Regions from separate parts of the Homo sapiens genome. Here all the other regions are linked to region 3. Evidence: fine-mapped expression QTL. A gene starts in region 3. Each other region holds a variant in brackets. All regions are shown on one strand. Distances are from middle to middle.

Region 1 (4,241 bases), 200 kb before region 3:
TTGTGGCTTTGCAATCAATAGAAATCACAGATGGTCTCATGTCATATTGTAGTTGTTGAATACATTTCAAGATATCATTTATACTTATCATTACTTTAATATTATACTCAATTTCTGTCTAACCTGTGTATCATGTTACTGAATGCATTATTAATAAAGAAGCACTTTACATCACTGTATTACCAGTTTGCTTTTTCTTAAATATTTGATAACTTTATTTCAACATAATTCATTTTCTTTATAATCCTGTACATTTTATTGCATGAATTTAAAAACATAATATTTGAAAGGGTCTATAGTTTTCACAAAACTGCCAATAGGGTCCATGAAAACAAAAAAGAAAATCTTTAAGTATCTCTGATATAATATAGGATGTATTCATCTTTTATATGGTATATGATAATAACCCTTCTCTTAAGCCATAGATCTTTAGTAAGAGTCTAGTATGGTACATGCAAGAGATTCATATTCCAGATTGTTTGAAGGAGGACTGGAGGTAGAAATAAAAGAGAAGGAACTATGCCCCATGCATTGGTTAAGCTACCAGATCAGAGATATAAGAACCACACACTTTGGGAGGCCAAGGTGGGAGGATCGCTTGAGGCTCGGAGTTCGAGACCAGCCTGGGCAACGTAGTGAGACCCTGTCTCTACAAAAATAATTTAAACACACACACACACACACACACACACACACACACACACACACACACACACAAAAGAGAGAATGGAATAATGGAATTCTAAAGATAAGAAGTCACTATCAGAGGTGATGATGAGAATGCAAGTCCTCAAGGATCCACACAACTCATTAGGAAGATGTGGACTTTCCACAGGACATGGGATGGCAGTTAAAATCCGCACTGTCTAACTCAAAAGTGGCAGGTTGGCCCCAAACTGACACCTGTGGCTTTAATAATATAAAGACCACCAGTAACCCAAGCACCACCCAGAAATAATTACCATTATTATGCTCATATAGGTCTTCCAGTTATTTTTCTGTATATGCATACATGTATGGTGTTGTATTCATATGAAGAAAAGTTTATTGTATTAACATATATGAATACAATCAATTTTCAAAACTAGACTCAATGAAAGCACACAAATCTTACTTTTTAAACTTTGTCATGCCCAAAATATAATTTTTGTGGTTATATCATGTTTCATCATATGGAGATGCCATCTGCTGTCACTAAATCCTCTAATATTTGACATTTACATTGTGTTTAATATTTCACTTATAAATAATGCTATACAGAAAAATTCTTATACATAATTTTTATTAAACTGATTATTTCCTTAGAATAAACTCCAAGTTATAGAAAAATTAGGTCAAAGTCTACTAACACTTTACCACTCATGAAATTCATTGCCAAATCATTTTTTGTTACAATGTTAATAGCCTCATCGGCAATGTGTAAAAAACTCACTTTGCCATCTTTTTCATCACTGCATATTATCCTTTTTTAAAATATTATTTTTTGTTTTTAATTATAAGGCATGTTTGTAGCTAACTTGGCAAAGTTGTCTGCAATAGTACTTCTCATTGCTGCACGCACCCCTCCTTTGCAATTTGACGTTGCTGCTCCTTCTATCAAGTTGAATGACATGACAGGAAACAGAAACAAGTGTCTCAGCTAGGGTCCTCTAGATCAACCGGCCCCCAGCAAATCCACCAGCTGACTGCAATAGAATTGTGTAACTGTGGGCAAGACCAACAGAAGAAACACCCAGCTGAGCACAGCCCAAATTATTGGCCCTCAGAGTCATGAGTCAATAGAATGGTTGTTATTTTAGCCACTAAGTTTTGGGTTGATTTCTTACATAGCAGTAGATAACTGATATAATGTTCACTTTTGTCATAAAAATGTATATTAAATTTTAGGGAAAAGTAGTAAAATGAATCCAGTATTCCACCATCCAACATAGAAGAGACCACTGCTAACAATTTGATGTATTTTATTCCCATCTCTTTTATGTCAGTATGCATGTACTATATGGATATCAGAACTATAAACTAACCTTGCTTTTAAAGATTGTTACAAAAATTCTACAAGCACACCAGCAAATGTAATTCATTAAAATATTAAAAACAGTTATTTAAAATCACTAATAAAGAGATTATTTAATGCTATTAATGAGAGCTATTTAATGCTATTATTTAATGATACATTACAAATATATGTATCAGGTCAATGAAAGTGCAAT[T/C]ATCTGGATAAATATTAATAAGTAATTGGTAAGTTTGATGTCCATTTTTTAGGAAAAAAAATCATAGAATATAAGGAATAGGAAAATTCAAACCTAATATGACATGATTAAAATGTCTACCTTGAAAGCAATAGTCAATTTTATACCTAATGGCACTATATAAGCGGCATTGCTATTAGAAGTAGGAGCAAGTCAAGAATGTTCCCTACAATATCATCACTAATAATTGCTCTGGAAATTCTAGTTAAAGCAATAAAACAAGAAGAACATTGAAATGTAACTATTAGAAAAAAGAAAATGAATTTATGAACACTTACTCATGACATTACCACACATCTCAAATCCTAAGACAATCAAATAAAAATGTGTTAATTTGAAGATTGAGTATAAGGGCTTGATATAAAATAAATATACATTTTTTCAAAATTGCAATAATAACATATTAGAAAACTAATGGAAATCTATCATCTTTGTAACTTTAAAAATATTTAATACCTCCTATATGTAATTTAAAATATAAATCATCTAGAAATAAGCTAATTACTAAATGTGGAAAAAAAAGAATGAGCTTACATAACTGATGACAAAGAGATTGTCTATTAAATTATGGTGTGTCCATAAGTAATACTACCCAGTCATTAAAAATCGTGTTTTTGAAGAATGTTTAAAAACTTGTCAAAAAGTTGTAATATAGGGTTAGGAAAAGATTCATGATACAAAATACTATATGCAATATCATCTCAAATGTGTGTGTGTCTCTGTCAACATCTGTCTCTGCTTCTAAAAAGAGGTCAATAGAAAGAGACCTGAAGACAAGCTGAGCTGTTGCTCTGGCTCCCTCATCTCAGCCAATGGCTTGTTCCCCAAAGCTGCCCCCAAGACCACAGCCTGGTGCCAACGATGCGTGACATCCTCTATTCTACTTTGGAAGAGAACCAGCCTAACAAGCCTCTACAGTCCCTGTCACAGATGGAGTTCTTTACAGCAGAGATGAGCACCTGGCCTTGGGAAACCAGAGAAACAGGTCAACTGAATGGGTCACCACCATCAGTGTTCTGTAAGCGTGAGAACTCATTCTTCTTCAGCCTTCATTGTGCCTGGAGATCATCATCACCATCACCCCATGGTCATCAACATGCTTGGGCTTCCCAAAAAGAAGCCCAAGGCTATATATCCAAGCAGATTGGACTATTTGCTAAAGATGAGTCTAACTGATTCAACATAGGTATGCTTCCCCTTGCTGAGAAACTGAGGCATCTATGACATAAATAAGGTAGGTGAACAAAGCCCACTGAAAGTCAGATTGACTGGTGTTCAAATCCTGGTTCTACTACTTCCCAGCTCTGGGATTTGGGGCATGTTACTAAATCTCTATGAACCTCACTTTCTACATTGTAGATGTAATTAGTAATAATATGTACCTTACAAGGCTGGTGTGAGAATTAAAGAGGATATAGCATCGCACCACTTATTTCAAGGTAATAAATTTACCTTGGTCTCCAAAAAGGTAAAAAAGTGAACGAGAGCTTGGGCTTCTAATAAAAAGACTGTTGTTGGAGGAAACTCAGACTCACCATGAGTCACTTCAAATGTGCTGAGGCTGTGGAACTGCAGAGGCTATCAGTGCAATGTGAATGGTACAAAGTTGGGTCCCAAACACAGGGCTGGAAGTCCACCAGTATCTCACTGCCCATGATGGGTAGGATTGCCAGGAGTAGCAAATAAGAACACAGGGCAGTTAGATTTTATTTCTAATAGGCAATGAATTATTAAAATGTGGGGTATAAAAGCATGTCCCGAATGCATAAGTATGTATTTTTCTTCTGTTCATTGATACATCCCAGACCCCCAGACTATGCCTGACATGTAGAAGACACTTAATAAATATTTCTCTACCATGAACAAATTTCTGAATATGTAGGCAGGACCCCACGAACGGTATGAAATAAAAGATTTATAATAGGAATTAGCCCTAATATGACTGTTGGAGCTGGTGGAAAAGTGTACAGAAGGCTATAGACTCTGCATCTG
Region 2 (4,241 bases), 230 kb before region 3:
AGGAAGGAAGGAAGGAAGGAAGGAAGGAAGGAAGGAAGGAAGGAAGGAAGGAAAGATTACTGGTGAGTGGTCAGATAGATGGATGGATGAATGAATGAATTCTAAGTGTGGGGTTATTCCTTGTGCAATATTGATATTGTACTTCATAATATTATACTTCCAAAATTATTAGAGTAAAAGGAAATGATTCAAAAAGCAAGGAAAGGTTCAGTGTGCTGAAAAATACAGTAAGCCCAATTCCTTTCTCACCCACCCCACTCTCAGCCACGGAAAGAGGACTGATACTACAGCATCAGAGACCATCCAAGACAATACAGTTGTCCCTCAGTATCCTCAGGGGATTGGTTCCAGAACACCCTGTGGAAACCAAAATCTGCAGATGCTCAAGTCTCTAATATAAAATGGTATAGTATTTGCATAGAACCTATGCACATCTTCCCATATACTTTAAATCCTCTCTAGATTACTTATACCTAATACAAGGTAAATGCTATCTAAATAGTTGTTATACTGTATTGTTTGGAGAATAATAAGAAGGAAAAATGTCTACACATGTTTAGTACAGATGCAACCATCCTTTTTTAAATTTGTTTTCAATATTTTTGATCCACAGTTGGTTGAATCCACAGATGTGAAACTTATGGATATAGAGAGTTTTATGTTTTTTGAGAGAGAGATGGGGTCTCACTATCAAAAGCCTGGGGTTGCCCAGGCTGCTCTTGAACTGCTGGGCTCAAGCAATTCTTCCACCTCGCAATCCCAAAGTGCTGGAATTACAGACGTGTGCCACTGCACCTGGTCCAACTGTGTTTTAAATTATTCTTCCAGGGTAATATAGAAATTTGGATAAAATTCTTGAATTTGAACAAAGTAGACACCAGTTTGCACAATGCAGGACATCAATCCATCCATGCCCTTTGTCTCCAGATATCTGGTGTGGATGTGCATTCATGTCAACACAACTTTTTAAATTGCATTTTTTCCTCCTTCTCACTCATGTGTCTTCAGAGTAAACTGAAGAATTATTTCAGTGGAGCCATAAACCTCTCGGTCTCCCAAGACATACATATGGACTCCATGTCAATTTTCTCTCCCACACTGCACCTGAACTATTTCAAACTATCTTCCCAGTTGACCAAACCAGAAACCTCAGAGTCGCCCACTACTCTGACCTCTCTCTAACCCCCAACCCGTTAGTCTTTCTCTCATAAATCTCTCTGGTTCTTCCAGCCCACAGCCTGTCCACTCTCATCCAGGTCTCCACCACATCTCCCCTGGGTTGTAGGAGAAGCTCTTAGCTGCCTCTTGGCCTGGGCTCTCTCCTTTAAATCCATCCTATACCTAGAAACCAGAGGGATTTTTCCAAAACAGAAATTTGACCTCCCTGGTCCCCTGGCAACCCATCAATGGCTTCATGCTGTCTTTAAATTAAATCTGAACCCCATGTGAGGCTCTGCACAATTCGGCCTCTGCTTGTTCTTCCAGCCTCATCTCACCACTCCCTGCTTCTCACCCGAGGCCTAGCAGCAGCCTCCATTTCTCTGGCTCCTTGTTTTCTGTCACTTTCAATCATTAGACCTCCTCTTCTAGTTCCTGGAACTCAATTGCTCACTCCATCTCAATCCTTTTTTTACCTAAGCACGATTCTTTCACTCCACAGGTTTTGCTGAAGTATCCTACCATATTCTGCAAGAGAGTATCTCAACATCCTCCTAGCTTAACACTTAACAACATAGTATTATGTTAGCTTGATCAACTCACTCTCCTCCCCTTGTCTGAAAGATCAAAAAAGGCAGCCCCAGGCCAATCGTGTTTGTGTTCCTAGCACCTAGGCCAATTCCTGACTTAAAGTAGGTATTAGAAAAAACTTTTTGAATGCCAGACAAATCCATGAACTGAGGACAACTCTTTGTTTATTCAACATATATTAATGGAGGGCCTGATATGTGTCAGGTATAGTTCTCAGCGTGTGGGATACATCAGTAAAAAACATAAAATGCCTACCCTGGTGGTGCTTACTTTTCAGATGGAGGGAGACATTTATTTACATATTTAACAAATATTTATCCGGCAGAGAATCATTGCACACACAAAAAAGATGGGGTGGCCTGGCCAGACATGTACATGACAGATCAGTTCTAAAATATTTTCCTTGTTTTTAGTTTCTACTTCAATGAAAAATTTGTCGTCATCTTAGTGTTACCGTCCTGGAAATTCTCAATGTCCTCTTTGCCTGCTCAATGTTTCTCTGTAACAGTGTTCATCATCTAATATAAAGAGCAACACAAACACATAGTTTGTGCTCAATCAAAGCTTGTGGAATACAGAAACAAACAAGAAACTCCAAGAGCTCATTCAGTAAACTTACAAACAAGTAAGAAGATGAGCTTATGATCAGCCTGCTCAAAGCAAAAGAAAAGGGAAGGAAACAATTTTTCTAAGAGCCCTTCAGAAAAGGGAGAAAAGCTTTGCAAAACTCAGAGAACCCAGGAGCAGTAACTGATCTTTATGATCCAGTACAGAAGCCTGAGTAACCGCAGGCTGTCTCAGGTTTTAATACAAGGTTATTTACATAGTT[A/G]CCTAATTATTATGTCTCAATAGAGGGAAGGAAAAAAAGCAAGTGTTTTTCTACTCCCTATTTGCCTTAAAGATCTAAGGGTAATAAATTGTTAGTTTTATTCTTAATTGGTACATGCTTCTTCCAATTTCTTTTCTTTAAAAAAATCAATACGTGGTTTGCGAGACCTTTAATGGAGAGTAAAGAACTGTGACTAGACTTCTTCCTTATTATTGAGATAATCTGTCAGCATTTATCTTTTAAAGGGGCCTCAGGTAAGGCAGACATGATTAAGTTTTTGCAGTAGTAAATGCTGGGCCATTTCTAGAGTTAAAATGATATGAAAAATATAACTGCATCAGGCTATGCCTGATAAAAGACAGTGTCTCTTTTGCAAAAATGTGGGCTGTGGGTCTGGTCTGCTGAGGCAGGGCTCCCAACATCTTGGAAATGTTGTGCCCAACCACTGCCCACTGCCCTGGCCGAGCTCCTGCCCCCACTGAGCTTCGGGAAGTGACTGCGGCTGTTCCCAGCGAGCCTGACCAGAGGCAGAGGCCACTGGTAACCTTAACCCCACGTGGGCAGGCCCTCGTCAGAGCCTCTCCCCAACCCTAAAATTAACCAGTAAGTTTTTGGAAGGGGAGGTGGACAGAGAAGTGCAGGGCCCTGTTTGCTCTTTGGAGCCCAAAGGAAACAGGAGCCTGGGAGCTGACACCCTGGGCCTGAAAAATTGTAATTGTTAGACAAGCCCAGGCATGTGAACAAGAGCTTCCCTACCCCAATCTGCAAGGCAGACACCCTGAGAGTGTTAGAGTTGGTATGGGCAGGGTCCTTCACACTCTGAAGTATGTGGTTACCCAGCAGGCTGGTGGGCAGAGCATGGAAAAGTCCGAATCAACCATAATCAAGTAAATGGCTAAGGCCGAGTTCAGGTAAGGCCCTGCCTACAAATCCAACTCACATTACCTGTGCACCTCATTGTGCCTGTGCCAGACAATGTGCCTCAATTTAACCTTTGCAAAACTTGTCTGATATGGACATTTGTATTCTCGTTTGATAGATAAGGGAGTAAGGGCTCAGAGAATTTAATTAACCTTCCCAAGGCCACACAGCTAAATGGCAGGACTAAGATTCACTATCAGTCTGTTGTACTTCTCAAGTTATCTTTGCTCTACCAAACATCCCAAGCAAAGAAGTTAACATGATGTAATGGTGAAGAGCATGGGCTCTATAGCCATAGCGCCTAGGTTTGAATCCTGGCTCTGCTACTTACTAGCTATGTGGCTTTAGGCAAGTTACTTAACTTTTCTGTGCCACAGTTTTCTCATCTGGAAAACAGGGACAACAGTTGTATATTTATCATCGTGTGATTAGGAGAATGTAAATATGTGAATATTTGTCAAGTACTTAGAAGAGTCCCTGGCGTATAATGAATACATATACATGTTTCATGTGTGCTAAATAAATAAAAGAAAGGGATCTTTTCATTCTCACCACACAAGAGTTCATTTTCCAGTCTCTGGACTCAGAAGAAGGTGTTTTGCAGTTTCCTAACATCATGGAGTCCGAAAAGTGCTTTTGCTACAAGGGTCTCACTTTACTGTCACAACAGCTGTCTAAAGAAGAAAGGAAGATTAGACCCATGTAACAGAAGAATACACTGAGACTTGACAACATGAGGACC
Region 3 (4,241 bases):
TCCAAACTGCGATCCCTTCTCACCCAAAGAAACAAGGGGAGTATGATCCATGATCAACAACATGCTAAAGTTAAACAAGAAAATGGTACAAAATAGAAATTATTACCATACATGTCCAGCATGCAGGATTAATATTTTTAATGCAGATTTTTTGTATTTTTCTATATAATCGAGCAGGCAATAAAACTGATGAGATTTGGGCGCCGAGCGTCCTAACTGAGGCCTGTGTCTCAGGGCTGAGAGCCAGTGTTCTCCGAACTCTGACAGACAGGTCCGTCTGTCCTTCCTTCTTTCGCTCAGCCTCGCCTCTCGCCTGCCGGGACGCCAGAGTCCCTCTCCTTTCCTCGTTGCTCTCTTCCTGGCGCGGACTACTCTCCGGGCAGCAAAGCAGCTGTCCCGGCTTAACGCGCAAAGTTCAGAAAGCCAGGAGTCTCCAGATGGCCTTGGTGACTTCTCGGGACTATGCCTCGCCGCCCTTCAGCCTGGAGAGAAGTTACTCCGGGACCTCCCACCCTCTCGTCTCTCTCTCCGGCTCTGCTCGAGTCTAGGAGGCGGCGCTGGCGTGCGCTACTCTCGCCTTAGCCAAGGTCCCCTGCCCGCCCGCGCACCCGCCCGTCGCCCGCGGCCCGCGCGCCCTTCCTCCCTCTCGCTCAAGTCAAACAGGTCAAGGCTGGGGCCGCGGCAGGGACAGGGTCCGGGGTAGTCTGGGACTAGGGACGTGGGACAGGGAGTCCGGGCCGGGGCAAGGGCGGGGGCCAGGACCGGCCACGACTCACAGAAAGAACTCGGGAGAGGAGGGGCTGTCGCTGGTGGAGCCCGCCTCCCTGAAGCCGGAGTTGGCGAGTTTCTCGCACTTGACCTTGTAGGCGTCTCTCTCGCGGGCCAGCCGGGACACCTCCTGCTTAAGCTGCTCCACCTGCTGAATGAGCTGCGTCTTCTCATTCTCCAGGTGGTGCTTCTGCTGGACGCGTTTATACCTGCAAGACTGGGCGTAGCCCCGGTTCTTCAGGGTCCGCCGCTTCTGCTTCAGGCGGATCACCTCGTCCTTGGTGAAGCCCCGCAGGTGGCGGTTCAGCTCGCGCACGGACATGGACACGAGCTGGTCGTCGGAGAAGCGGTCCTCCACGCTGCCGTTGCCGCCCGCCGCCGTCGCCGAGGCCGTCGCGTGCGGCCCGGGCCCGGGGTGGCTAGTGGGCAGCTGTTGCGCCGGGCTAGCGGCGCTGGACGGCGGCGGCGACGCTTGGTGATGATGGTGATGGTGCGGGTGAGCGTGCGGGCCCAGCTCGTCGTGGGCCACGCCGGCGCCCGGGTACGCGTGGTGCGGGTGAGGGTGGTGGTGATGGTGGTGGTGGTGAGCGCCGCGAAAGCTGTCGAAGCTTTGCAGCGGCTGTGGCACTGGGTGCGAGCCGATGAGCGCTTCCACCGCGTCCTCGGGCGTCAGGTTGAGCGCCTCGGGGTTCATCTGCTGGTAGTTGCTCGCCATCCAGTACAGATCCTCGAGGTGTGTCTTCTGTTCGGTCGGGCTGAAGCTGGGCGACGAGGGCACGGAGCTACACGGAGTGCTGAGCGGTGTGGAGGACACCGAGCCGGCTGGCTGCAGGCGTGTGCAGGGCCTGCCCGGACGCTCCGCGCGCCCCAGTGGCTCCTTCTTCACGTCGAACTTGAGCAGGTCGAAGTCGTTGACATACTCCATGGCCAGCGGGCTGGTGGGCAGCTCTGGCCCCATGCTCAGCTCCGCGGCCATCGCTGAAGCGAGGCGCAGCCGCCGCTGCCGCCCGGGAAACTTTGCGGCCGGCCGGAGCGCGCCGAGCCAAGCGCGGGGGGGAAGAGCGGAGAAGAGCTGGGGAGGCGGGGAGCGAGGGCGCAGCGGGCCGGGGCCGCCGGCCAAGCCTTTGTCTGGGGACGCGGCGGCGCGCCGGAGAGTCCCGAGGCTGCCTGCACCGCCCCAGAGCTCTGGGCTGTGCCCGCGCAGGGACCGGGCCGGGTAGAGTCGGGCGGGGTGGAGAGGCAAGCGGAGCGCGCGGTGGGGCTGAGGGGAGGCGTGGGGCGAGTGCCCGTTGCTCGCTCTCTAGCTCTCTTGCTCTTACGCTCTCTCGCTCGCAGCCGCTCGCAGCTCGGCGGTGCAGCTGTGCTGGATCCGGCGGCGCCGCAGCCTTTTATCGCCTCCTGATGTCACTGGGGTGCGGGGGCCCGGGCGGCCCGGTGCGCGGGCCAATAGCTGCACGGCCTCCGCGGCCCAGCGGCGCAGGGCGGGGCGCGCCTGACAGCTCCCCCGCCCCCCGCGTCAGCTGACTGGCGGCCCGAGCGGCCCCGGAGCGGCGGAGGCCTGGCGGAGCGCTGGAGCGGAGTGGGACGGCCAGCCTGGGCCCACCCCCGTACCCTGCAGGTCCCGGCCCACGCACGCTCGCCTGGAGTGCGCGCCCCACCTCTAGGCCAAATCACCGCTTTCCCCTCCTCGCGCACTCTCCTCCCTCAGTTCCCTTTGCACCCCACCCCCATCCCGTGTCACCCCCAAGGAGGCTCAGAATGAGCGCCGGGACAACGCCTCCTGGGCCCTTTGTTCCCAAGCGGCCCCCGCCCAGTGGGCGACGCTCTGTGTGTCCTCGCGGCTTCTGGCCGTGTGTGTCGTGCGTTCCTGTTTCTGGAGATCTGCGCGTATTTGTATGTTGGGGAGGGCGGGCTCGAGGCTCCGAGAGTTGTGTTCAGACCCAACTCTTAACCTCAGGGGACCTTTCTCAGGCCAAGCGAGGGCCCCTCCTGGCGGGTGCAGTCGCAGAGCCCTGAGGTTCGACTCCACTGGCCCCGCCGCTCCCCGCGTTCACCCCACCGCACAATGTTCACAGTGAAGGCGACGGGAAAAGCAGCAGCCCAAAGGCTCTGAATTCCTCTTCCCCGCCACACGCACGGAATCCTGAGCCCCCGGAGCCTCGGGGCCGAGGCCGGCCCGGGACGGTGCTCCGAGTAGCTCTCCACTGCTGGGGAGCCGGCCCTGTTTTTGTTTGAACGTTTTGTAACGATTAAGCAGATCCCGGCGTCAGCCCGCCGCGGAGAGGCTCAAACAGGCATAAAGTGCGACCCCAAGTGGCCACTGTGCGCAAAGGCGCCGCGACCGCCCGGCCCACGGCCGGAAGGCTTGGACGGCGCCTCGTACCCAGCCAGGTCTCCCCTACCTGGCCCAACCCAAGCCAGCCCAGAACGCATACTATGTGTGCACCAGAGCCCAGGACAGGTTCCCCTCGAGCGATGTACAGGTCCTCGGGTCCCGTCTTCGTACTCAGCCGCGAGCCTCGAGCCGCGAGCTCCGCTCTGGTCGCCCCGTTGAAATTCCGTGCCCCAGCGTTCGGGGGTGCCCGTCGGCTGCTCCCTGGGCCGGAAGGTCCTGGGCGGAGGAAGGCCGGTAGCCAAAAGTGGAAGCGCCACAGTGAAGCGGCCCAGGGCCACCGGGTGAGAAACCTCCCCGGAGGGCAGACGGGGAGACCGAAGCACACCGCACTAGGCATCCAGACTGGGCTTGGGAGCCGCGCACCCTCCCTACCCAGATCCAGGATGGCTAGAATTAACGGGTTCTTTCTGAGACCTCGGCTCAGGCGCCGAAACCGGATAGATCGCGAATTCGCTGGACCCGGAGACCCGACCCGCCTCCCGCGTCACCTTCTTCTTTCTAGCTTTGGGCGCGCGCAGCGAAAGGCAGGAGAGGCGCGCACTGGGTGAGTGAGTCCCGGCCGCTGTCTGCGCTGGACCAGCCCGACTGACCTCGCGCGTAGGGGTCGCGTGAGCCACACCGGTGCAGACGCGCCTAGATTATTTTTAAATGTTAGAAGGTAAAATATTTGCCTCCAATTAATCTGAAAACTCTCTATTCTCTTGCGCCCTCGGAGAGGCTGGGGTACGGCGTGGTATTGGGCCGCCTATTTTTAATAAAATGAGTGTATTTTAACTAAAACTTAACTCAATCTTGTGGGGTGGCAAATTAAATGCTGGAAGAGCGCGTCTACAACCCTCTTCGAGAAGCGTGCTCTCCGCAGAAATGAGTCGGCCGCCTGGAGAGAGAGCCTGGGCGGTGCCGCTGCGCAGCCCCTGCCAGTAGCTGGGGGTTGGGGACTCGCACCTTGTAAATGTCCTCGTCTTGTTTGAACGCAGTGAGAGCACACTCGTTTCCAGATCACTCGGGACCGGGTGTCTCGGATCTGTGCAGACTATGTATGGCTCCGGCCTCAGGCGGCCAGGGCGGGACAAGCACG

Which allele goes with the higher level. Positions count from the first base shown, and alleles are read on the strand shown. Sizes are in standard deviations (SD) of each study's normalised expression. Not every link is listed here.
For the expression in whole blood of the gene that starts at base 2,130 in region 3, G is the high allele of the variant in region 2 and A is the other (small effect, 0.12 SD a copy in GTEx).

The links. PIP is the estimated chance that this variant, and not a neighbour inherited with it, causes the effect.
Region 1: its variant is the best candidate, but not a certain one, in a credible set for the expression of MAFB in monocytes (TOPMed, PIP 0.51).
Region 2: its variant is the best candidate, but not a certain one, in a credible set for the expression of MAFB in whole blood (GTEx, PIP 0.59).

The regions. Positions count from the first base shown.
Region 1 is chr20:40,484,778-40,489,018 of GRCh38, forward strand. No RefSeq gene overlaps it. Among named protein-coding and RNA genes, the nearest start is that of MAFB, 200 kb to the right of the region's middle. The variant T/C (reference allele first, on the strand shown) is at 2,211.
Region 2 is chr20:40,460,269-40,464,509 of GRCh38, forward strand. It overlaps LOC105372618 (a long non-coding RNA gene), which reads right to left. Exons shown (of 3, transcript XR_936718.3): 2 at 4,052-4,173. Among named protein-coding and RNA genes, the nearest start is that of MAFB, 230 kb to the right of the region's middle. The variant A/G (reference allele first, on the strand shown) is at 2,579.
Region 3 is chr20:40,687,107-40,691,347 of GRCh38, forward strand. MAFB (MAF bZIP transcription factor B) reads right to left here and starts at 2,130. Exons shown (of 1, transcript NM_005461.5): 1 at 1-2,130. The coding sequence starts at 1,744. The coding sequence ends at 773. RefSeq lists silencers at 1,993-2,062, 2,083-2,392 and enhancers at 2,343-3,320, 3,321-4,241.